Linked DNA regions of Homo sapiens. The protein of the gene in region 1 purifies or fractionates together with the protein of each later gene. This does not show direct contact. Each region holds a gene or a part of one and is shown on either strand. Other genes may lie near its edges.

Region 1 (9,543 bases):
ATTTTATAGCATGTGCCGAATCCTGAGGTCAAAACCATAGTGGAATAACATAGCTCCCTCTAAACCTCTTAGACACCATCCTCTGTGTGAGTAGTCCTCACTGCTTTTTTTCTACATTCAATAGGGTTACAGTTTCAATTGCATAGCCTCTGTGTTACATTTACGATAACAATACTTCAAAAAAATCTGTTACATCCTTTTGAAATCAAAGTTCAGAGGATTGCTTCTAAGCTAGGACATAGAAATGGAGTATTTCTTTAGGACTTTTTATCTTTATTTTACTGATTATACTATAATTGTGGGGGCCATCTCAAATACAATTTTAAACATCATCAATGTATTTGGTGAAAGATATCAAAGGTGGGTTGTAAGAATTATGTCTATGATTATGCCACTGGATGGCAAAATACGGATGTATCTGTCATTAGTTTTCTAGCCCATAAAATCACACTTTTTAAAAAAGGCTAACAGCGGTTATTACCTAATTTATAAGTAATCGTATGGAGTGATGTAAAGTAGCCTGTCGTTTTTAATACTTTTTTTGTGATTAAGTAAGTTTGCGTCTATTCTTTGCAGTGACTTTAAGTGTTCTTGGCTGGTTTTTGTTGTTTTTGTTGTTGTTGTTGTTTTTAATGGAGTCTTGCTCTGTCACCAGGCTGGAGTGCAGTGGCACGATCTTGGCTCACTGCAAGCTCCGCCTCCCGGGTTCAAGCAATTCTCCTGCCTCAGCCTCCCAAGTAGCTGGGACTACAGGTGTGTGCCACCACGCCCAGCTAATTTTTGTATTTTTAGTAGAGACGGGGTTTCACCATGTTGGTCAGGATGGTCTCGATCTCTTGACTTTGTGATCAGCCTGCCTCAGCCTCTTAAAGTGCTGGGATTACAGGTGTCAGTCACCGCACCTGGTCCTTGGCCACCTTTATACCTCTGCCAAATAAAAAGAAAAGTATGAAACAAAAAGAAGATTCCAGTTATCTCATATTATTCACAGCCTCATGTCTAAACTACACCTCCAAGACCCCACATCACTCTATAGTGTTATGATTTGAAGTCTGTCTCCCACAAAAGATATCCTGAAATCCTGACCCTATGGTACCTCAGAATGTAACCTTATATGGGGAATGGGGTTGTTGCAGTTATAATTTGCTAAATTAATTCAATATGGTGGGTGTGCGTGTAAGAAGACAGAAATTTAGACACAGACACAGAGGTAAAATAGCCATGTAAAGACAGAGGCAGCGATTGGAGATATGCGAGCACAAGCCAAGGAATGCTGGGCCTCCCAGAAGCTGGAAGAGGCAAGGAGGAATCCTTCCCTAGAGGCTTTGGAGGGAGCATGGACCTGCCCACATCTTGATTTTGGACTTCTAACCTACAGAACTATAAGACACTAAATTGCTGTTGCATGGTACTTTGTTATGGCAACCCTAGGAAACTAACATACACGTTTCACAAGTTCACTATTCTTCCTGCTTTCTGACCTTGGGACTCATATTCCTAATTATGGCTTTGCCTAACCCTTAGACTTAAAACTGCACTACGTTTTCTGGCTTTGTGTTTTTATTTTCTTTCTTAACTATAATTAATGATCGCCCTCCAATGATTTTATGAAACACAGGTGTCCTGGTGCCAACCAATCCCAGTTTGCAGGAGACAATTGTTAAATTTTTGAGAATTTTGCAAGCTGGTTGCTAAACACAGCCATTTTTTTTTAAAAATTACATTGTATAAGTTTTAATATAGGAAAACAAAAACAAAGGTAATAAATGATTAAAACTCATCACTTCCTAATTACTTAAATACATTTTACTACTCTCTGTGCTTACTACTCTTGATGCTTTTAAGGTTATTTACATGTGTTTTACCTGTATAGTGGAAACATTATGTAATGATGAACTAATTCCCATCCTTTCCCAACTCACATCTCACATTGGTAGCTTGATATCAGCCATAATGAGAGTATTTACACCATGAATGTTGCTAAAAGCTACAAATCAGTTATTTTTATATTTTCAGAGAGTTGGTTATAAACATAAACCAGCACAGCATTGAAATGCTATAAAGTCCATTCTATAGGCCAAATTGGGATGGCTGTAGAGGAACAGAAAAAAGTTAGCTGGAGAGATCTCTTTTCTTGGCCCTGCATTGTACCTTTCAGCAGGAAGTTAGAGCTCAGGATAGCAAGAAAAAGCAAATAAAGGATGCTATTACAAATAATGAAGGCAGAGAGATTTGACCGGGATTGTGAAGAGGGGATAAGGAAGACTTAGATCCTGGTGACCTACTTTTAGTATTGTCTGCTAAATCCTCAGGGAAGTGTTTAGCTCTGATTATAAATATTAATTAGATTTCAATCAGAGACTATTTAAAGGGTCTGTACACCTTAGAGAGAGACATTTCAGATAGATTGATTGTTAGAAATATATACAGATATAGTAATATATATAGCATTTTCATGTACAAGTGGTTCAAGTTGGTAATAAGTAGATGATTTCACATAGTAAAACAGACCCAAGCCAGCTACAAAATTATAGGTAAATTAAATGACTCTATAAATAAGCATGATAAAACCTTAGTAACTTTAGCAGATATATAATTCCACTGTATATGGATAGGGTCAACATTCTTTAGCTTTGCTATAACATCTTCCTTGTTATGCATATAAACTGAACAAAAATATTTGTAGAAGCAGCAGCTCTACACATTTAAAAACAAACAATGAAAGAACCTGATACTTATTAAATAGTGACTTCCTAAAATTCTTAGGCATAATTTGAGGCTGTTGGCTGCTTGACATTATTCTGCACTGTGGGGAGTGGAGTCTCAGGTAAGAGACCCTGTCCTAGCCCTTGAGCTCTGTGACAGCAAGAGTTGGGAATGCTGCAAACTTGCAATCAGTGCCAGAAAGAAGGTGGAAGGTGTTTCTTCTTTTAACCACAATGCCAGCAACAGATTAAGGAGTGGTGTTACCCACACTACATGAAGCGTTGTTGAGTCTACTCTTGCTGTGAGTATTGTGTCTCAAATCAGGAAATGTTCTAAGTGTGGAATGTGTGAAGCGTGCATCACATCAGTCTGTTGTGACTGAGGCATTCTTTCAAAACCTGTCATCTGAGTCCAACAATGTTCCTATTTAATTAGCCACTAGTTTTTCTTTCTTTTTAATGATAAATAAGAGGCTCCCTTTCCTTCTCCGTGTACACAACATAGCTAGGGAAGAAACTCAGTCTCTTAAAGTCCTGCATAGTTTAACATTCATTCTTAGATTCTTTATGCATTTTGAATAGAAAAAAAAGGCAAATCCAGCTCATACATATGGTGGTCTTAAAAGGAAGCATATAATGAAGTATAAAAAATTACATCACAAATAAAAACAATACAATAACCATTTTTACAATTTTACTCTGCAATGTATTATTAGACTTGGAGAAACACTGCGAGTTTAGGTGGTTGTTGGCATGGCAAATGCTACTAATCAAAGAAACAGAGGTAGTTGGAGATGGACCAGAAAAGTAGGAGCAATGAGGGAGTGCTACTAAGAGTGATATGACTCAAGAATTTTTCCCTCTGTCTTTCTTAGTTCTCCCTATGTTCCCTCTCCCAGTTGTTGCTGAATTCACTGCTACCCCCAACCCCCATCCTGGACTCATTACTGCAAAGTCTTCTCAACTGATTCCCCAACTCAAGATGTAATTAGCTTCTCAGGCTAAGAGCAATTGGTAAAACATCTCACACATTTTTGTCCTTGTTGTTTGTGGGCATTTTTGTATGTTTATTGTTTTTATTTTTGTTTTTGTTTTTTGAGGCAGTTTCTCACTCTGTCTCAAAGACTAAAGGGCAGTGGCTTGATAATAGCTTACTGCAACCCCGAACCCCTGGACTCAAGCAATCTTCTGGCCTCACTCCCTCACCCCTAACCCCTTAGCTAAGACTACAAGTGCATGCCACCATGCTTGGCTAATTTTTAAATTTTTTGAAGAGGTGGGGTCTCGCTATATTGCCCAGGCTGACTCAGTTTCTTGAGAATCTTGAAAACAAACAAACAAAACACATGCTCAAGAACCAAAGTAAAAAAAAAAAGTTTTCAAATAGTTTGAGTAAGAAATGTCCTCAGATTAAACCACATAAAGCAGTTATGGTAGCATTAACAACAATCTATTATAGATCCATAAACATTCAATGATTTTAATATATTCTGAAAACTAGCTAAAGCATCATTCAAAATGTCTTCATTTTAAACTAAAATGTCAATAGGCATTTAACCGAAAAAAAATTTAAAGCTTGACATACTAAGCTTTCCTTCAAAAGTTTACATTTTTTTATATTTCACTGGAACAAAGTTACTTTGCATATACATCACACTTTTACTCTCAGAGGAGTTTCTCCTGCAGACTTCTTTAAAAAACTATATACATATATACATACATATACGTATATATTAAATTATCCTCAGCCTCAAATACTGATTTTGCAGTCTGTGATTCATAGCAGAAGAGGTGTCCCATTTTTCTATATTGACACACGATAATTTGACATTTGTTTTTTACTGACCAATTTCTAGCTAGATATTTCATCTATAAACTGCACTTAGCCAGCCTTATGCTGAACTTTGTAAGGGTTTTGTAATAATAAACTGTTCTTGACTGAAACACAAGCCTTTCATAATTACATGCCACAGTGCAATTCTTATGCAACGAGCTTGTGTTTTTCCAAATTTAGGACCAAGCATGTAGTTTTATCAGTTAGCTGGGATTTGGTCTTGTTTTCCCTTGATTCTGTAAGTGGTAGTTCTAACTTTGAAATGGGTCATCTAACTTATAACTATTTTCTTCATTTCTTTTTAAAAGGGAGAAATAGCATGCAAATTTCTGGCATGTTGATAGAAAGTTCAGCATTTTTTCCCTGACATGAAATATTTCATTTAGAATGCGTATGTTTCCTCTACGTATAAGGTTTCCTAGAGTCAGATATGATAAAAACAAACTCTGAGATGTATATACCTATGTTCCTACAAGTGTAAAACCTGAATGATGTCTCTGGAAATGGAGCCTCGGAGTGACCAGGAACACAAATACTTATATGTCACAGAAATAGAGGGGCACATACTTTGAAATATTTCAATGGAAATCAAAAATTGTAGTTTACTGGATTGAAATTAGTATCCTCTACTTAAACATTTTTGACACAAACTCAATGCTGATTCAGATCTGTAATCCATGTAGCTCATAATAACTTACTTGGTAGAAGTATTTCAGATTAATGAATTGTACAATTGTACAAATTAATAAATTGTACAATTGTTCAACTATACAATTAATTGTACAATTTGTATAGTTGAAAAAATCTATAAATTAATTTATAGATAAATTATCAAAGAAGACAACATTTTAAATAGTTATTCCCAATATTTTTTCTTCCATAATTAAAATAAAAGTAAGTATCTCAGCAATTGCTTGTTCTTAAAATTTCACTGCTATCTCAGCAGTCATGTAAGTTATTCTGGCTATTTAATTTTTCACTTTTGTTTGCATACTGTAACAGTTGGTAGGATAATTAATTTTGATTGTACATTTCCATTGAACTTTTGATGAAATTGTTTCACTCTTTTTATTAGAATAAAATTATTAGGAAAGTCTTCTAAAGAGAGGTTTTCTGTTTGTTTTTCCTTTGAGGAAGGTAGAGAGATGGGAAACGAAGACACCAAATATAAAGTCATTCCTCTATCTCTCATTTTAAAACCTGTTTTAAAGGTTGTAGCTAGTCAGGAAAACTGAAAAATCAACTGGTATTCCTAACTAAAGCAGGGCTTTGAAACTCTGCTACTAGCGACAGGGTTGGGAAAATTCCGGTTGCTCTTCTTGTCTGTGATATACGGTAGAAGGGTTGGTCCTGGTTTGGTCCACCTGCCAGCGGAGTTTAAAGTTTCCGAGGCTCAGAGGAACACAATGACTTGGATCAAACAGCCTAAATGGGAAGAAGGACATTTTTGCTGCATCAAGGAAGCCGTTAAACTCCTGCTAAGCTAACTAGCTCTTTTTTATGGGTCCATGCACACGACCGAACTCCTCTTTCACTGACCAGAGATTATTTCTGACAACCCAGGATATCCCGAAAGCTTGGAGGCATATGGCTGGAAAATGAAACGACCCAGGACATCGTTTCTGGCTGCATCATTATTTTGTGTCGCGTAGTACCAGATGGGCAGTCAGTGAGCGGCGCAGGGATGTGAACGGACGGTTTTATAATGTGAAAATTTTCCCTTGGTAAAGCTAAAACAGATTTAATTTCCCTCTCTTTTCTTTCACTACTTCCCCCTCTTTATTCCCCCTCTGTCTGCAATATCAGTGAACTCAACTTTGCAGTGAGGTGGCCAAAAAGAGAGAGAATGAGGAGATCTTGATCATCTTAGTGTCGGAGGAGTCGCAGCGGACTGGGAACTGCAGCTGCGACCCCCCGCGTCCTGTGCGGATTTCAGGGCTGATACCGCATAGGCGGTTATGGAAAGGACGGTACACCGGAGCGGCGGAGGATAGAGACCCTGGCCCCCGGAGAGGTCTGCTGATTTCGCAGCAGCCTTCGAAGCCGTGGCTGCCTTTCATCTGCTGCGTTTTATTACTATTATCGCCGTTCCGGAAAAGTCATGGAAGACAGCCCGCTGCCAGACCTCAGAGACATCGAGCTGAAGCTGGGGCGCAAAGTACCCGAGAGTCTAGTGCGCTCTCTCCGTGGGGAGGAGCCGGTTCCCAGGGAAAGGGACAGGGACCCCTGCGGGGGGAGCGGTGGTGGTGGCGGCGGCGGCGGCGGCTGCAGTAGCAGCAGCAGCTACTGCAGCTTCCCTCCCTCCTTGTCGTCCTCCTCTTCGTCCTCCCCAACCTCTGGCTCCCCACGAGGTAGCCACTCTAGCGCCCTGGAGAGGCTAGAAACCAAGCTTCACCTCCTCAGGCAAGAGATGGTGAGTGTGGTGCGCCAGCCGCGGGGGCTGGGACCTGGGCTGGGCCAAAAGATGGGGCGATCTGAGAATGGGGCTGGGAGAGAGGACGGCAGGGGCTGCAGAGCGGAGCGCTGGGCGCGTGGGAAATGCTGGGTGGAGGAATGAGCAGGGGGCGCTCATCCGGAGGCAGCTGCTGCGAGGCTTGTTTACCGCGGACTTTGCTCGGTCACGGTTTGCAAAGACAGCACAGTCGGCTGGCTCCACTCTGTGTACTTTCGGACAACGCGACTCACTGCGCCGGGCTCTATTTAGCTGCCAGCCCGTAGCCTCTTAGGCACCAGCCCGTTGAGAGTTTGCAGTTATTGCACCCATCTAAGGCCTGCTGTGCGCTGTTAACACTTCGGGTAGGTTCAAAAGGTGGCTCAGTCCAATGCACTTACTGCAAAAATACTTCCTGGTTTGCCGGGAGGTGGCGTGGCAGGGTCCTTGCAGCCTTTCCTCCTAGCTCACCCTTCCACCAGTACCGCTCCGCCCTCCTGCCCTCCCTTCTTGGTGCAGCAGCCGCAGCTGTTCCAAGGCCACTGTCGAGCAGATTCTCCACAGCTGGTTCTGAAAACAATGGCCTACTCGTCCTTGATGTACTTATGAATAGCTTGTTTCACTATTTTGATCCCAGGGAGCAGGTGATCCCCAGGCCCAGGGATCTGCTAAGGACCATCTCCCACCCTTCTCCCTCAAGTCTCAATCTGCAGTTGTTTTCCCTGCTGTTTGCAAACGTTTGCCTGAGCATAGGACAATGAGATAAGTACAAGGTCTAGGAATACTCATTCTGGAAGTATTTAGACTAAGACACTATTTACTTGCCATGAGCTCTTGGGCACGTCACTTCACTTCTGTAGACCTCTGTGAATTTGATGAGCTGGTTAGAGAAAATGATCCCTCCCTAAGTCCTTTGAAAAAAACGACCACAAAGCAACAGCATTTTCTACTAGCTTGGAGATAAGGAAAGTTGCAACAGTGGGCCTCAAAAAGAGAAAATAATTTCATTAAATTAACTTCACAGTTGCTTTTGATTTGCTTCAAAGTAGGCTAGGAGATTTCTATCACTCCGACAGGAATGCTGGAAATTATTTCTATCATTCTATCGTTTAGTTATTATAGAGTTCTATCATTTAGTGATTGTTATTTTTTAGGTTGGACAAAAATTTAAGGACAACCCTTAGGTACATAATGGAGAAGCTGGAAAGTGGAAGTCATCTTGATGAGTTTGCAAAATAGATGAAAAGATAAAATGGAAAAGATGACAAACCAACAGGTCAGGGGATGCCTGATACCGTATCACAAAGATCAGACATACGTGTGGAGACTAACAGGTAAAACTATTTTCCACAAGAAAATTTCTTGTACAAGGAATTAAGAATGTTGCTAACTCTGCAAATTAAGGACTTAATATGAGGGACGAAGACATCAAGGAGATGAGGAAATTTTATTCCTAACCATGTCTTCTGTAATTTTACCCATGGAATGTTAATATATTCACTTAATCTAATAAATAAATCTTGTTGAAACATATTTTCTTTCTCAGTAGCTCACTGATAGCACATCAAAGATAATACTGTCATTTTGCTGGACACTCAGACACAATTTAGAGTATTTATATATAACTTGAAAACAGTAACATTTCCAAAAACCGATGAACCCCACCCTGTCCCAAGGAATGATTGGTATGTATGTGAAGATCATTTTCTGACAAAAATAATTACGTTCCACTTAGGATGCACAACCATGTTGTCCTGTAGAGAAGTCACAAGTTTTGTGAGAATTTTTAAACTGATGATGTTTATTTCCATGGTAACGTGAGTATACATTTTACCTTCTATTGTAGTGATGAATCACAATTAGTTTTTTTTTATAGGTTGGTGGAAAAGTAATTGCTGTTTTGCCATTGCTTTTAATGGCAACCACAACTACTTTTGCACCAACCTAATATTTATTAAGACTTTACTTTTTTGAGACACAATTTCTGAAACTGGGATTTATGTTGAGAGTCTCTAAGGTCCCTGATAATTTGTCGCATTTGTTGTTGTTTTTTGGAGAATATTTCATCACTACTCAAATGATGGTCCTCTGGTCTGGTGGAAGCTTCGTAAGCTTTGAAGCCAGATAAACCAGGGTTTCAGACAAGTCTAGAGCAAGTCAGGATATCAATAAGACCCAATAGGATGTAGGGCTGCCTGTCTAGGGAGACATTTAGCTTATCTTCCCCGGCAAAAAGGCTTGTCCCGCTCTCTGTGGCCCTCATTCTAGTCATGGCTTTTTCACTCACTAGTGTGTGGCACTGAACAAGTTATAGAACCACTTTGAGACTCAGCTTTCTTGTTAACATAGGAATAAGAGCATCTCCATTAAGGCATTTTAAGAATTCAGTGAAATAATATAAGAAAAACAACTATTACATAGATATTCAAAAACAGTAAGGATGCTGGCAGTAATGAGCATTACATCAATGACATGGGTTCCGTTGATCTTACAAAAGCAGCCCTACATGGATAATGTGGATTTGGGACTGATGAAGGCCTAGATATCTTCTCCACCAGACTGACTCTATCATG
Region 2 (8,591 bases), on another chromosome or scaffold:
CAGGAAACAGACAAGGTAGGAGGCAAAGGGAAAGAAACATCTACGTAACAAACGTGTGCAGGAATCAATAAAACATTAAACAAAGAAATGTGTCTAAAACGCACTGCCTTCATGAAACAGAAAGAGGATGTTACAAAAAGGAATACTGAGAACAACAACACTTTTTTTTGGAGACAGTCTCTCTCTGTCACCCAGGCTGGTGTGCAGTGGCGTGATCTCGGCTCACTGCAACCTCTGCCTCCTGGGTTCAAGCGATTCTCCTGCCTCAGCCACAAGAGTAGCTGGGATTACAGGCACCTGCCACCATGCCCGGCTAGTTTTTGTATTTTTAGTACAGACGGGGTTTTGCCATGTTGGCCAGGCTGGTCTCCAACTCCTGAGAGTTGATCCACCTGCCTCGGCCTCCCAAAGTGCTGGGATTACAGGCAGGAGCCGCCGCGCCCAGCCTTACATTGAATTTTTGTTTCTGACACTGTATCTTTCATTTTTAAGTGTTCTTGGCTGGGCGCGGCAGCTCATGCCTATAATCCCAAGCACTCTGGGAGGCCAAGGCGGGTGGATCACGAGGTAAGGAGTTCGAGAACAGCTTGGCCAACATGGTGAAATCCCATCTCTACTGAAAATACAAAAATTAGCTGGGCTTGGTGGTGGACGCCTGTAATCCCAGCTACTTGGGAGGCTGAGGCAGGAGAATCACTTGAACCTGGGAGGCGGAGGTTCCTGTGAGCTCAGATCACGCCACTGCACTCCAGCCAGGGCAACAGAGTAATACTCTCAAAAAAAAAAAAAAAAAAAATTAGAACAAACATTAAAACTACAGTATTATCAACAAAAGTTCCCCAGAGCTGAAGGACCCAAGCGTCCCAATCAAAAAGACCCACCAAAGAACATTAGAGATAAACAAGAGTTCCCTGAAAGCTTCCAGAGATTTTACAAAAGAAAAGTCCCACACAGAGACTTGGAAACCATCGTGGTCTCCGACTTCTCATTACCAACACTCTCAGTGTAGACAGCAATGCCTCCATGCTTTCAAACTTCTGAGGAACAATGACTTCCAACCTAGAATTCTGTACGCAGGCAAAGTGCCATTCAAATGTGAGGGAAGAAAGGGCATTTTCAGCCAGGCATGGTGACTCATGCCTGTAATCCTGACACTTGGGGAGGCCGAAGCGGGCAGATTCCCTGAGCTCAGGAGTTCGAGACCAGTCTGGGCAACATGGTGAAACCCTGTCTCTACTAAAATACAAAAAATTAGCTGGGTGTGGTGGTGTGCACCTGCAGTCCCAGCTACTCGGGAGGCTGAGGCAGGAGAACTGCTTGAACCGGGAGGTGGAGGTTGCAGTGAGCCAAGATTGCACCACTGCACTCCAGCCTGGGCAACAGAGCAAGACTCTGTGTCCAAAAAAAAAAGCATTTTCAGACAGACCTGGTTCAAAAAATTCACCTCCGATGAATTCTTTCTCAGGAAGCTACTAGAAGATTCACTCCACCAAAAGATGAAAGACACAGAATCCAGAAAGGGGAATTCAACAGAGGAAAGAGACACGAAGAATCCCTGCAAGGAATGAAAAGCACTCCAAGGAGGACTGCTCAGTAGCAGGCCCGCAGGACACCCGGCCCAGGCTGAAACAGAAAAGTGGCAGGCCTGGAAGGGATGAAGGTGATAAGATTATGTGAGGTGTTTAATGGAGGAGTTCTAGTTAAAAGCCTGGCACTAAATTCATGACTGTACATTGAAAACCAAGCTAAAGAAAATTCGGCCGGGAGCGGTGGCTCACTCCTGTAATCCTAGCACTTCAGGAGGCCAATGCGGGCGGACTGCTTGAGGTCAGGAGTTCAAGATCAGCCTGGCCAACATGGTGAAACCCCATCTGTACTAAAAACACAAAAATTAGCCAGGCATGGCTGGGCGCGGTAGCTCACGCCTATAATCCCAGCACTCTGGGAGGATGAGGCAGGTGGATCACGAGGTCAGGAGATGGAGACCATCCTGGCTAACACGGTGAAACCCTGTTTCTACTAAAAATACAAAAAAAAAAAAAAAAAAAAAAAAAAAAATTAGCCAGGCATGGTGGCGGGCGCCTGTAGTCCCAGCTACTCGAGAGGCTCAGACAGAATGGTGTGAACCCAGGAGGCGGAGCCTGCAGTGAGCCGAGATCGGGCCACTGCACTCCAGCCTGGGCGACAGAGCAAGACTCCGTCTCAAAAAAAAAAAAAAAAATTAGCCAGGTGTGATGGTGGGTGCCTGTAATCCCAGCTACTCGGGAGACTGAGGCAGGAGAATCACTTGAACCCGGGAGGCGGAGGCTGCAGTGAGCCAAGATCATGCCACTGCACTCCAGCCTGGGCAACAGAATGAGCCTCCATCTCCAAAAAAAAAAAAATTTACTCCATGGGATTATTATAAGAAAAGAAAATAAAGAAAATTCACTCCAATAACACAAAACTATTTCCCTTAGTAAACTGTATCTTACATGGCTTAGCTGTGAAGACAGTTACCTAACAATAAGAATGCAGACACTGAATTACCAATTTAAACAAAATTATATAAACATATTTGGAACACAGAAAAAGAGCAAGGGGTGAATGTGTTTCAGGCAGTGGAGGGACAATGTAGAACAGTTCTAAGGCCTCTTCTACAGCAGAAGTCAGCAATGTCTAAAATGGTAAAATCAGAAATTAGCAGTACCAGCATGCTACACAGAAATATGAAATTTAAGGCAGGCATTGCTAAGCACCCACCAATATCCAAGGATCTTCTATAGTAACATCCCACCCCCGGCCTGCTTGGCTGAAGGAGGGTGGGATGGCCACCGTCTCAGATGGTGGCCTGAGGGTGGGAAAAGGCCACAGCCCCGGAGGCCTCTTGGAGCAAGGCTGTCCAACTAGCACTGACTGCTGACACGTCAACTTCACGTGAGAGAAATCAACCTGATTTTATTTAAGTCACTGTCACTTTGTTCTCCATTACTGGCAGCTAAATGTGATCCTAACTAAAATGATAAGTAGAAACAGAGCAGTTAAAAGTGGTAGTCTGTGGGAAGTTGGAGCGCGGAGCAAGCGACTGGTAGAGGGACTGCTGTCTTGCACTACAACCCAGTAGTACCGCTTAGTTTCCAAAACTAAGTAAATGCATTACATTGATAAAAGTTAAATGATGTTAAAAGAAAATCACCCCATGGGGCATGGTGGGAAGTGCTGTTAACCTTAACTTTTTTTATTTATTTGAGACAAAATTTTGCTCTTGTTGCCCACGCTGGAGAGCAATGGCACAATCTCGGCTCACTGCAACCTCCGCCTCCCGGGTTTAAGTGATTCTCCTGCCTCAGCCTCCTGAGTAGCTGGGATTACAGGCGTGCGCCACCAGCCCGGCTAATTTTTGTATTTTTAGTAGAGACGGGGTTTCACCATGTTGGCCAGGCTGGTCTTGAACTACTGACCTTGTGATCCACCCGTCTCGGCCTCCCAAAGTGCTGGGATTACAGGCATGAGCCAACACACCCGGCCATAACCTTAACTTCTAAAGCTAAGATTAGATGCGTCTTTTGGGGTCAATTTCAAATTCTAATACTGAATTGTGGATATCAGACTTTTTATTTTAAAGGCAACAGAATATGAAGGCATTGTAGTTTTGGAAAGGCAGAGTGATGAAGAGAGTTTGAGACTGATCTGGCAGAGGTATTTAAAACTTCAAGTGGGAAAGGCATTCATTTAGGCCTGAGGACCTGAGAGCTTTACCTAGGTCCCTGACAATGAGAATAGAAAGAAAAGGCTAAAATAAAATAAAGATATTTCAAAGCAGGCACCTGCAAGGAGGCCTGAGGCTGACCGCAGTCCTGTGAAGGACAGAAATGCTGGTTAGAGGGCTGTTTGCCCAGAAACGGTTAGGGAAAATGCTCAGAACCTGGTTTACCCAACCTGAGTGGGGAGTGGGCTGGAGGGCAGGTTAACATGACCTCCCCAAATTCCTAACATAGCGGAGCGCAGTGGCTCACACTTATAATCCCAACATTTGGGAGGCCAAGGTAGGAGGATTACTTGAGCCTGAGTTCAATTCCACCCTGGGCAACACAGCAAGACCTCGTTTCCACAAAAAATAAAAAATTAGCCAGGTGTAGCGGTGTATGCCTATTGTCCCAGCTATTCAGGAGGCTGAGGCTGGAGGACTGCCTGAGCCTGGGAAGTCAAGGCTGCAGTGAGACATGACAGAGCCACTACACTCCAGCCTGGGTAACAGAGCAAGACCCTGTCTTGGGGGGAAAAAAAAAAATTCTTAACAGTTTTCCAACCTATGACTCTGCAATTTTGGAGGTCAGGGAAATCATCACCTAAATTAACACTGGGAATCACCTTACAATAGGTCCCAAATGTTCTCCAAAGACTCTCCAATCCAAGGACCGAATTTGAATGAAATTATATCATTCCATTCAAATTTATGTTTGAATTTCTAATTCCTAAGAAAAACAAAAATCCAAAGAAGTTCTCTATTACACATCGATTTTTTGCAGTTTTAATCAAAAAACAATTTTGTTGCCACTGTTACCTACCAATCAATAAAACTAACCAAAAACCTAACCCCCAACACAGATTGTTTAAAATCAAACTGAAACTTGACCTTTATCTCCCAGTTAGTGGCTAGTGTATTTGGGGCGGGGGGGCGGGAGATTACTACACGCAGTTCACATTGCCAAAACACTTCTGATTTTAGATTTAAGGAGAGGGTGTTTCCTCTCATCCATTCTCATTAGCAAGAGAGGCTTTCTGTGAGCTTCTCACACAAATTTAAGGTAACCATAACATACCGTCATCCCATAACACTAAGAATCTAAGAAAAAAACAAACGTGGTCAAGGACTAATAGGTATTATGTTATGGGTTTTGGGATGAGATTACATGGTAACATTGTTTTTAGTCTCTTCCAGCTAAAAAAAAAAAAAAAAAAGCTTTGTCTCTTTTCAGAGAAAAGCATTTGACAGTTTCACTGTATTTAATATAGTTTGGAATTAACAGTCCTGTGTGCCTGCCTGTTTATCCAGTATCACTAATGTCAGCGCAACCAGGAGACATCTAAGGGCACCTGGCTTGCGACAAGAGGCAGGGCGGAGGCAAGCAGAGGAGCTCTCTGTCAACCCTGCAGTGTTGTGAGTTCTGTAATTTACATGCATTTGAGTATTTTGCCTGAAGGGCAATTCACTGCACATTTTAAACTTTTTCAGGTAGCTCACACAGTGGTATCCTGAAGTGAGAACTATTTCTTCAAATCCAATTTTATTTCTTTGAAGTCTAGATTTAAGAGAGACACTGCTGCTCACTGTGAAGCCCAACTGTCATGGAAGGAAGAGGTTTTTTGTTTTTTTTTTGGAGACAGGGTCTTGCTCTGTTGCCCAGGCTGGTGTGCAGTGGCGCAATCTCAGCTCACCGCAACCTCTGCCTCCTGGGTTCATGAGATCCTCCTGCCTCAGCCTCCCAAGTAGGTGGGACTATGCGTGCCACCACACCCGGCTAATTTTTGTATTTTTAGTACAGACGGGTTTTCACCTTGTTGGCCAGGCTGGTCTCAAACTCCTGATCCACTCACCTTGGCCTCCCAAAGTGCTGGGATTACAGGTGTGAGCCACCACACCCGGCCTGAAGTTTTAAGACAGAAAAGGTAGGGCTGGGTTGTTAATGTTTAATGGTTTCAGCTGTCCTATCTCATGCTATTATAGTCAGTATCAAACAGCTACCATAGAATCTACATGATCTAAATTAGGTTAAACTAATTTTTATCATGCAATCCTAACATTTCCCTATAATTCAGATCTTACTCAAAAGATCTATTTCTTAAGTCTGTTATTTTTAAAAAGTGTTCCCATGTTATGCAAATATTCTATCCAGAGAAATCATTAAGATAAAAATGTATTTGAGCCGGGCACAGTGGCTCACGCCTGTAATCCCAGCACTTTTTATTATGAGATGTTTAGCACCGTGTCAGTTAAGCCTTACTTATTAAATTCGGTGGCATCATCCCACTCACACCTTGGGCTGGCCATTCCCACACTAACAGCTATGGGCATTCACATCCATGGAGGAGGACCGTGAGAAGATACTATCACACTCATGGTGAGAAAAGCCACAAATGAGGAACCACCCAGAAGACTAGGAGGATTAATTCTATTCATGAAGAGGAAGCACATCTCGAGAGAAGATGCCCGGACTGGGGACTGGAAACCCACGGTCCGCCTCTGTGACACCAGCATCAAGCCTGAGGCCTCCCTCCTGGTCTGACGGCCACACAGCAGCCAGGGCAGAGGACCACTGTGGCCTGTCCAATGCCCATAGGCTAGGATTTCAAACATCAGCTCCATCCAAACGCAACATTAGCTGTTACAAATAAGCTGTGGGAAAAATATTTAACACATAAGACAGTATTTGTATATGACAAAGATGAAAGACAACAAATTCATCTCACTGGGTTGTCCGTATTTGTTGCTATTTACTTTTGGAAACTGTAAAGTGTTTCATATGTTCTGCTTCAAATGGTATCAAGATATTTTCAAAATAGCTTAAAGAAATATACATGCAAGGCCAGGCGTGGTGGCTCACGCCTGTAATCCCAGCACTTTGAGAGGCCGAGGAGGGTGGATCACGAGGTCAGGACTTTAAGACCAGCCTGGCCAAGATGGTGAAACCCCGTCTTTACTAAAAATACAAAAATTAGCCAGGCGTGGTGGCAGGCACCTATAATCCCAGCTACTCGGGAGACTGAGGCAGAGAATTGCTTGAACCCGGGAGGCGGAGGTTGCAGTGAGCCAAGATCGCACCACTGCACTTCAGCCTGGGCAACAGAGTGAGACTCCGTCTCAAAAAAAAAAGAAAAGAAAAGAAAAGAATACACACGCAAAGCTGGGCATTAAGGTTCAAGATTTCATAGAGGAAACCAATCAAGCTATAGGAAAATTAAAGACAAAAACCTACAATGAAAGTTGAAATGACTCGGCCAGGCACGGTGGCTCACACCTGTAATCCAAGAACTTTGGGAGGCCAAGGGGGGCAGATCACGAGGTCTGGAGATCGAGACCATCCTGGCTAACACGGTGAAACCCCGTCTCTACTAAAAATACAAAAAAATTAGCCAGGCGTGATGGCGGGCGCCTGTAGTCCCAGCTACTCAGGAGGCTGAGGCAGGAGAACAACGTGAACCCGGGAGGCAGAGCTTGCAGTGAGCCGAGATCCCGCCACTGCACTCCAGCCTGGGCGACAGAGTGAGACTCCGTCTCAAAAAAAAAAAAAAAAGTTGAAATGACTCTTGTCCCATGCGACCACTGTGGCAATAAGAAAATATGAGCCAAAAATAATCATATTTTATTTATTTTTGAGACAGGGTCTCACTCTGTTGCCCAGGCTGGAGTGTAGTGGCATGATCATTGCTCATTGCAGCCTTGACCTCCCAGGCTCAAGTGATCCACCCACCTCAGCCTCCAGAGTAACTGGGACTACAGGTGTGCGCCACCATGCCCAGCTAATTTTTATATTTTTATAAAATTTTATTTTGACATTTATTATAGATACTGGGTTTTGTCAGGTTGCTCAGGCTGGTCTTGTCTTCCTGAGTTCAACCAATCCTCCACCTTGGCCTCCCAAAGTGCTGGGATTACAGGCATGAGCCACTGCACCAGGCCATAATCTTCCTTTAAAACTTAAAAAGTTTACTACCTATACTTTCCAAATTTCCTCACATATTCCCCATTAAGCCTCCAAATCTGGGCTGAATCAGCTACTTTTCTTCCTTAAGTTTCAAGAATTCTCCATAATTGTCATTAGATACCTGGCAAGATTTGGGAAGTGGGGAAAGGTTGGCTTTTCCACGTGACAGGAATCGACATATCAGAGGTTTCAAATGTCATGGAGTGGTGAATCCAAAAACTGAACAGTCCACTGATGGACAGCCTATATGTGTTTCCTGAGCAGAAGTAATTCCACTTGGAAGTTAGAGTACCTAATATTGCTCTATAAATAGTTTTATTCAAAAACATTATTCTGTGCTTTCCAATCGAAACAACCAGGCAATTCCAAGCAACATTAAATACTAACTGCACACATGTTAACTAGAAATACACCACTTTAGAGTTACAATGACGTATATGTTAACATAAATGAGTTTAAATACTTGTAAAATATATTGATATTTCATTAAAACACCACCTTCTAAGTCCATTCTTCCCTATAATTGAAAGTTTATACTTTTGTGCAAACTGAGTTCCTGAGAATAATGTAGTTTGTAATCACAATTTCCAAAGAGCCAGAATACAACTTTGAAAATATGTCTATGTTACAGCACAGTTCCCGTTTAGATTTGGAAAGGCCAGATCTCATAAAATATGACCTCCACACATGCTGACAAGAGCTTCCTCCAGGGAAGCCCACCAGTAATGCCTGGTGGAGAGAGGTGGCTGCACAATGGCCCCCAGGGCCCCCGCCCTCAGACTAATCTTCTAGGTCCCAGGCCAGAGGCCAGTGGGACCACATCTTCCCAGCAAAACCAACTTTCCCTCTGCTTCCTCTTCCCAGTCACACTCACAGGTGGTGCACCAAGTTGAACCTGACAGTGGA
Region 3 (8,591 bases), on another chromosome or scaffold:
TTACAAGTAAAATAAGATATATTTTTGGTGAGAAAGTTATAAGCAAGATATGAGGATCTGTTTTTATTGAGGAAAGGAGTGATTTTGTCTAAGTAGATGTTATTTAAAGGTTGAAAAATGAATGAAGAAATGATATAGAGAAAACTAAATGGATACAGAAAGTTGAGAAAAGAGAGCAAGAGAAAGTCTTGTATGGTTAAACTAACAAAAGTTGAATTAATTTATTACGAGATTTAAAATGGAGCCTTGATATCTAAAGTATACTGATATAAAACTAAAATTTGGTCTTTTTTAAAAGATTTTCCTATAGTATTGACAAGAGAAAATAAAAGATTTTTGTTCACCTTTTTAGTCAACTGTAGAGACAGAGAGAGAAGGGGAAAGAGGGAAGGGGAAGGGGAGATTCTGTGTTTCATCAAGATGATTCCCTGTGCTTCACATTGTCTTTATTGGGTCTTTGATTACTTTAGAAAATTGAGTTAAAGAGTTAAGGTTTTTCTACAACTATATGCCTTCCTATTTGCTTTTGAAGCCTTTATCAGTCTGATTAAATATTATTTCACAATCAGAATGACTATTATTTCACAGTGACCTGTGATCCTATTTTGATTGTTTTGAATCTTTTTTACAAACCTCCCAAAATCAAATTGTAAATGATGTCTTTTTTACCTTAAACTAACTTTAGGATTTCCAGAGGGCTCCCTGGAAGTCTGAAAGTGACATATTAAATAAACCCATTAGGTTTATTCTGCATGCTAAATTATATAAGAAACATTGTCAAATAACATGTAATGCTAACCTTTGAGTTATTATTTGTATGAATGTTATTAATGTGTTTCAAAACTATGATATTCCTAGAAATCTAACATGCTACCTGTCATAATTCTGATTATGTTAAATTGTTATATCTCACAAACAACCAAATTTCCTTGTCAACTGCATTATTATCATAATGAACTCCCATCAGATCTTTAACCATGGCCATTTTAAGTCTTGTTGTTCACATTTATCATAACTGCTTTATTCTGATGCTCTTTCTAAAAGCTTTTTGCAAGCAATTATAATCCTAAAGTTTTGGGTCTTCAAGGAGGTATATGGGAAGAACAAAAAGAACTCTGACCTGTACAGGTCTCTGATAACTTTAAGGAAATACCAGTGGACTAGGTATGAACTCCAGAAATCTAAAGGAGAAACTGAACTCCTAAAATTGCTAACATCGAGCAAAATTAAGAATTAATTACATGGGACTAACATGATGAGGGACTGTGATTTTTAGGACTTTATTAGAAACACTACTGATTCTTTTATTTTCCAGATTTAGGAAAACATTTTCTTCTTTTGCGCTATCTATGGCTTAAGACAATTTGGTAAAGTATACTTTTGCAAATAGAATTGAAACATTTACTTTTCTTCCTTACTTGATCCCTCCAAAATTTGGAAACTATTCATGAGTATTCTTATTTTTAGGATAATATAGGCATTTGCATAAGTTCAGGAAGAATCCGTTCTTCTTTTAATAGGATACAATTGAAAATACTGGTTATATTGCCAAAGTTTGATGAGAATGTCGTATTTTCTGATATGACCAGTTTTTGGGAACTGAGGTCCCTAGAGGAACCTCAGTTTAATGGGGCCAATAAAGGCACCTTGGAAATACTGGCCTCGTACCTTGAATACATGGTTCAAATGGTTGCCTTATAGGGTAAAGAATGTCACCTTCCTGACAGGCCCAGGAACATCAGGAATCTAGGGAAGAGAGCTATCTATCTAAGACTACTATAGGCACAATCTGATGTTGAGTCCTAAGCTTGGCTTCTTAGCCTAAGGAGGCATTTTTGTAAGCCTAATCCGAGATTCCTTATGAAGAGTTCCAGCAAAGCAGATTTTAAAAGGGCTTACATAGTCAATCACTATTTTTGCTGCATTTATGTAAATAATTAGGCCAAGTATAATAGACAAAAACTTATTTTACAAATAAACTGGTCTTACTGATTCTTTTTGGTAGAAATTAGTGTGAGAGAGGAAAAATATTTTCAGAAAAATAATAGTTCAGAAACTATAGTTCACCCATTACTAGATTCTAGCCCTGTTCATTGTTTTTGAGATTTTATTAACTACCTGCAATCTGGAATGGATCCTAAATTCTTTTAGTTTTTTCTGATACCTGGCTGTGAGTCTCCAAACTAACATTTCCAATTTTTCTCCCACCCTTTGACCTGGAATCACTGAAATTAAAATTGGGCTTTTTCTGAAGCTATGCAAGCTAAAGCTGGACAACTTGATACAAACATAAGAGAAATCACCACAACAGCTTTTGTATCGACAACCTTTATGATATTTAAACTACAAACAAGGAAAATCTGTCAGATTGCAATTGCCTGCCCCACTCCAGCTGAAGACACTTTGAGCCTAAGATTTATAAATCCTCTCAACTGGCTGCTCTCCAGACTCAGAAACTAATTTATAGACTGCTCTAAACATTAACCTTGCTTTTCCTTTTTTTTCATAGAAATGTCTCTTATTAAGTATTTGTATGCTTATACATATAGAAACCTAACATTAAAGAGATCACCCATAACACCACCTCTTGAAATAAAACATGACTGTTTACCTAAACTAACCTAGTCTCAGGACTAAGAGACTGACTCAATAAGATATGAGACAATATACTTAAATCTGTTCTTTTCTGCTGGTTCCAATCTGGTTTTCTTCCCCTTTGCCAATCACTTATCTACAACCATACCTCTCCAAAGCTACCAGCCTAGCACATAATATGTGAGACTTTCTGAAAGTAAAGTTTCAAAGGGGAGAACTGAAGGAAACCAGCCTATCTCCCCAAAATATGAAAGACCTTCGAGCTAAAGATAATTAGGATGAAGGAAACTATCTGCCTTCCCTCTGTCTGCCTAAAAGCAGGACACAGAATTACAAAGACAAGAGGTCTATCTTCTCCCCATTTCCCACCTAAAAACAAGATACCCATTCTCCTTTACAACCCATATCACCTCAGAGATGGTGGCAGAGAAATCTGCGAGTAGACTTTACCCCAGGAGTTTCCCCATAAACTCACCTTCCCACATTCTCCTGCCTTTGGAAGCCTGGAACTGCTTTCCTTTGTCCTAACACTTTTCTAAATGTATAGTTCTTTGTTGAAGACAGTATGTTGAGCCACTGCTTATTTTTCTCCCTTGCGATGTGCACTGCATGCATTAATAAACTTGCTTGTTCATGTCTTTTGTTACAGGTATCTGTCCCAATTATGAACTTACAAGGTTTGAGGGACAGATTATTTTTTCTACCCTTCAATCCTTAAGGCATCTCTTGACTATGACAGTTTCTCAGACTTTACTCATTTTTATGACCTTGACAGTTGGGAGAAGTGCTGATCAGGTATTCTGCAGAACGTCTCTCAATAGGGATTTGCTGATATTTTCCTCATGAGTCGACTGGCTTTATGGGTTTTTAGGGGAAGACCACAGAGGTAAAACGCCAATTCATCACATCACACTATCATGCTATCATCATTGTTGATGTTGGCCTTGATCATCTAGCTGACATAGTGTTTGTCAGGTTTCTCCACTGTAAAGTTACTGGTTCCCCCTTTTCCATATTGTAGTCTTTGGCAGGAATTCACTATGTGCTGCCCACACTTAAGAATCAGGGAGTTAGGGCCAGGCGCGATGGCTCACGCCTGTAAACCCAGCACTTTGGGAGGCTGAGGCGGGTGGATCACGAGGTCAGGAGACCGAAACCATCCTGGCTAACACGGTGAAACACTGTCTCTACTAAAAATACATAAAATTAGTCAGGCATGGTGGCGGGCGCCTGTAGTCCCAGCTACTCGGGAGGCAGAGGCAGGAGAATGGTGTGAACCTGGGAGGCGGAGCTTGCAGTGAGCAGAGCTCATGCCTCGGCACTTCAGCCTGGGGGACAGAGCGAGACTCTGTCTCAAAAAAAAAGAATCAGGGAGTTAAGATACACCGCTTTGAGGGGGAACATCTACATAAATTATTTGGAATTGCTCTGCATGGGAGATTTGTCTTTAATCATTTATTTATATCAGTATCAACTCATGAATATTACTTCAAATTTTGAATTATAATCCAATATTCTGTTGTTCAGAGTTCCGTCTTTGGACATTGGATGTTCTTTCCATCGGCTCTTGTGTCTCTGACAGACAGTAGTTTCCCTCTTATCTACCGTTTCACTCTTCAGGGTTTCAGTTACCCATGGTCAACATGGTATGAAAATAGATGACTACAGTACCACAAGATATTTTGAGAGAGAGAGAGAGAGACCACATTCACATAACTCTTATTACAGTATATTGTTATAATTGTTCTATTTTATTATGAGTTTTTATTATCTCTTATTGTGCCTAACTTATAAATTAAACTTTATCACAGATACGTATGCACAGGAAAAAACTTGGAATATATAGGGTTTGTTATTATCCATGATTTCAGGCACCTACTGCAGGTGTTGAAACATAGCTTCCTCCATGGGTAAGCAGGGACTACAGTATCTCCATCAATGTCAGCTTATCAGTTGGTGCATTTCCTTAGTTTCCACACTACAAGATGCCCTAGGCTCATCTTGTATATTTCCTGCCCCTTTCCTAAAATTAGCCATTTCTCCTAGGAACCCTGTTCGTTTTATTCGAGAATGGCATTAGAAGCCAAGTTCTGGGCTCTAGATGTGCTCATTGATACTGGTGCATCTAGGCTCTCTCAGCTGACAGAGCAAGAAAATATATGTATATACCAACATATATATATATGTGTAACCATCCATACCTGTATTAAGCTAAACATGAGTTCACACTGATGTCTCCAACATGAATCCAGTGCCAAAAGCATTTTCTTTTTAGAGAGATGGGGTCTCACTACATTGCCCAGGCTGGTATCAAACTCCTGGGCTCAAGGTATCCTCCTACCTTGGCCTCCCAAAGTGCTGGGATTATACGCGTGAGCCAACACAACCAGCCCAGAAGCATTATTTGTAATAGCAAAAACAAGGAAAGAAAGATAGAAATGTCCATCCAGAGGACATTAAATACATTGTGGTACGTCTGTACATTGGAACATTAATCAATTTTTAATGACAACGCTACATGTACTAATATAAAAAATTACATATTACATGATAAATACATATGCACATACAAACACAATTTCTGGAAGGAAAGAAAACAAAAGGTTAACAGTAGTTAACTTTGGGAAATGGGAATGGGGTCATAGCATGCATTGTCAATGTAGTGATTTCATCCTCAAGGAGATAAGAGAAAAGATCTTGGATATTACAATGGCTTATGGCCCTTCAAAGAGTCACAGTGCATAAAACGCCTAAAAAGTTTCCTTAGGAGAGTGATAATGAAATAAAGATTGAGAAACAATGGGTCAGATAGAATAGTTAATTGTACTTTTCACTTTACACACTTGTTTTCTATGAGCATGTGTTTATTTTTGCATTTATTTTAAAAAAGGTTCACAGCTGGGTGCGGTGGCTCACGCCTGTAATCCCAGCACTTTGGGAGGCCTAGGCGGGTGGATCACAAGGTCAGGAGTTCGAGACCAGCCTGACCAACATAGTGAAACCCCATCTCTACTAAAAATACAAAAATTAGCCGGGTGTGGTGGCACATGCCTGTAGTCCCAGCTACTTGGGAGGCTGAGGCGGAAGAATTGCTTGAACCTGGGAGGCGGAGGTTGCAGTGAGCCGAGACCACGCCATTGCACTCCAGCCTGGGTGACAGAGTGAGACTCTGTCTCAAATAAATAAATACATAAATAAATAAATAATATTAAGGAAATAGTGAAATTCTGACTAGAAGACATAGTTCCTTAGCCCACACTGCATGTTCATCTCATGGGGGGTTGCCAAACTGTTGTTCTTCAGCAACCACTCCCTAACTTTCAGAGGAAAATGCATTGTTGATAAGTACCTGGTGATTCAGATGCAGCTGGCCCTTGTACCACACTTTGAAAAATACTGATGTAAAACCAAGTTTGCACTTGAAAACAAGGCAACATTTAATTCCAAACAGCTTTCTACTGGCTGATCTCATATGCACCCAAGATTGTCAATGCTTCCGTTTTCCCAGACTGACGTGGTCATTGTGGTAGGCAATAGTTTCAGACTGTTTTGTCAAAATAATGCTCCAGTTATTTCCTGGCCTAGAAGCCAATGGAATACTGGATGCATCTTTTAATTACTAACTTGCTCTAAGAATAAGCTTGACTAGATTTCCATGTGAACTTAAGTATCATCTCAATAATCTTGGGGAAAACGATACTAACTCTAAAGGTGAAAAGAGGTTTAAAATTGCTTTAAAACCAATTACCTCACCATAGGAAATCCATTTTAAATACTGTTAGCCCAAAAATTGCCCATTATTGGGGTGGTGGTGGTTGTTTTCCTCTTATGTATGTCCTTATTATTAAATAGCCATCTCTCTTCAAAATTTCATCAACTTGGAAATGACATGGCATTACTACACTGAACAGTTTAGCAGACATGTGTTGTCTGTGTCTGCCCGGTCAGCATCCTCATGGTAGTGCACCCCATTCTGTTTTGGACTATTCCTCCAATCTTTGCAGGGGCTGCCAATTAAAGTATCCTGCCCTCCCGTGGCCAAAGTATTTGAATACATGAGATTGGCCAAACTAGGCCAATCAGACACTCCTCCTGGAATTTACATGCCTAGCACTATCTCTAGACCAGGAACTCCTCACCAGCAGAGGCAAGGTCTTATTCAGCTCTATCTCTCTGATGCCTAGCACAGTGCCTGGCTATGAATATTCAATGCATGTGGGCTGAATGAATTATACAGAAAATCATGCACCTTAAACAAATGCTGAACTAAGTCTATCATTTTCCCACTGAATTCCGGAGGGGGAGCAAATTGTATGATGTTTTGTAAGGGAAATATCCACTTTAGTAGCTAGGAAATATGCCTCGGAAATAGTATCCAAAGTTGCCATTTCTCGGTGCATTAAAGATGTCAATCAGTCCAATAAAATAAAGCCCCAAAAAAGACAAAAGGAGAATTACCTCATTACCTCAACATCTGCTTGAACATAAGCAATCACACACTGGCTAATTTTTTTTAAAGGGACATAATATAACTTTCTGGAAAGACATAATATAGCTAATTATACCATTCACTAGGAGGGAACATAAAATGTTTTGAAGTAATTCAGAAGTGGGTGTGATTTATAAGACATAGAGCTTAGGGAATGGTAAGTATAAATTAGAGATTGTTCATATTATGACAGACTCCGTCATTACATTTCACAACTTTTGTCAAAAGCAACCTTATTCACCACACCACTAAAGGCTTCACGTTAGGGAAGGCTGCTGTCAGCTTTGTGGTTTAGAGTAGACAGGAATCTCCTTTCTGAACACTCTCCTGGGGAACTGGTTCAAGTTTTAGACTTAAAACTTACTAAGGCAGGGCAAAATGAAGAGAGATTGTTTAATGGGTTCAAACATAGTTAGATACAAGGAGTAAGTTTTAACATTTTGATAGCAAAGTAGGGTGACTACAGTTAACAACAATGTATTATATATTTCAAAAGAGATAGAAGAGAGGACTTGAAATGTTCTCAACTCATTGAAATGATAAATACTGGAGGTAATGGATATCCCAAATACCCTGACTTGATCATTATGCATTCTAAGCATGTAACAAAATACCCCATGTCTTCTATAAATATGTACAAGTCTCATGTATCAGTTTAAAAAAAAATCACTAAGGAAGGACCCATATGATGAAACCTAAATGGCCAATGGCCATGTAAAAAGATTTCAAACATCACTAATAACCAGAGCAATGCAAATCTTAAAAGGTAACATTCTGCCCATTAGATTGGCAAAAATTCAAAAACTTGTCAGGCCATCAAATGAATAAAGATTGCTATTAGCCAGAGTTGACCAATGTGTGGGGAAATGGGTACTGCTGAAGGATATCTGAACTGGTATAATCATTTTGGAGGGCACTTTTGCAATGTCTAGCAAAAGTAAATGTCCGTGCCCTCTAATCCAACAATTCCATTTCTTCTAAGAATCTATCCTAGAATAAAAAAGTAATTGTACATTTATTCATATGATAACTTGAATAGTACCTGTCTTCTCTTCTAGAAAATTAATTTGGTGACAAGGACTGTGTAGTTCACTATTTACACCCCTAGTGCCTACCACATGGACCTGACATATGGTGGTACTTGATAAGTATTTGTTGAAGGAATGAATAAATATGTTTACTCAGCATTATTAAGGGAAAATAACATATTTGATAAATAGTGGTTCTTCTTGCTCACACTAAATAGGGGTAGTGGAATTATCACTCAGAATATTAACATTGTGAGTAAAAAGGTAGTAACAGGTAGTAAAAATTACTATTTTCAAAAATAAACCATGCAACCATCAGCTTACAAAATTGATCATAGTATGTACTGTTAAATGCTCAAAGACCCAGTTACCTGTTCTTCCAAATCCCTAGCTTCCCAATTAGTTCTACAGGTCAAACAGTAACTGAACACTTTTGAAGTAAATTGTTTCCACAGTCTGTGATCCAATGACAAGCAAAC

What was found.
Region 2: the proteins of LURAP1L (region 1) and CDC42BPB purify together in Homo sapiens (affinity purification with mass spectrometry; 3 studies listed by BioGRID and IntAct, with this or other methods). This does not show direct contact.
Region 3: the proteins of LURAP1L (region 1) and SHTN1 purify together in Homo sapiens (affinity purification with mass spectrometry; 3 studies listed by BioGRID and IntAct, with this or other methods). This does not show direct contact.

The regions. Positions count from the first base shown.
Region 1 is NC_000009.12:12,769,076-12,778,618, forward strand, and holds the start of LURAP1L (leucine rich adaptor protein 1-like), read left to right. Parts: upstream 1-5,944; 5' UTR 5,945-6,640; coding exon 6,641-6,952; intron 6,953-8,124; coding exon of another isoform or gene 8,125-8,154; exon of another isoform or gene 8,155-8,503; intron 8,504-9,543.
Region 2 is NC_000014.9:103,046,504-103,055,094, forward strand, and holds part of CDC42BPB (serine/threonine-protein kinase MRCK beta), read right to left. Parts: intron 1-8,591. UniProt on the Homo sapiens protein: Serine/threonine-protein kinase which is an important downstream effector of CDC42 and plays a role in the regulation of cytoskeleton reorganization and cell migration. Regulates actin cytoskeletal reorganization via phosphorylation of PPP1R12C and MYL9/MLC2.
Region 3 is NC_000010.11:116,994,142-117,002,732, forward strand, and holds part of SHTN1 (shootin-1), read right to left. Parts: intron 1-8,591. UniProt on the Homo sapiens protein: Involved in the generation of internal asymmetric signals required for neuronal polarization and neurite outgrowth.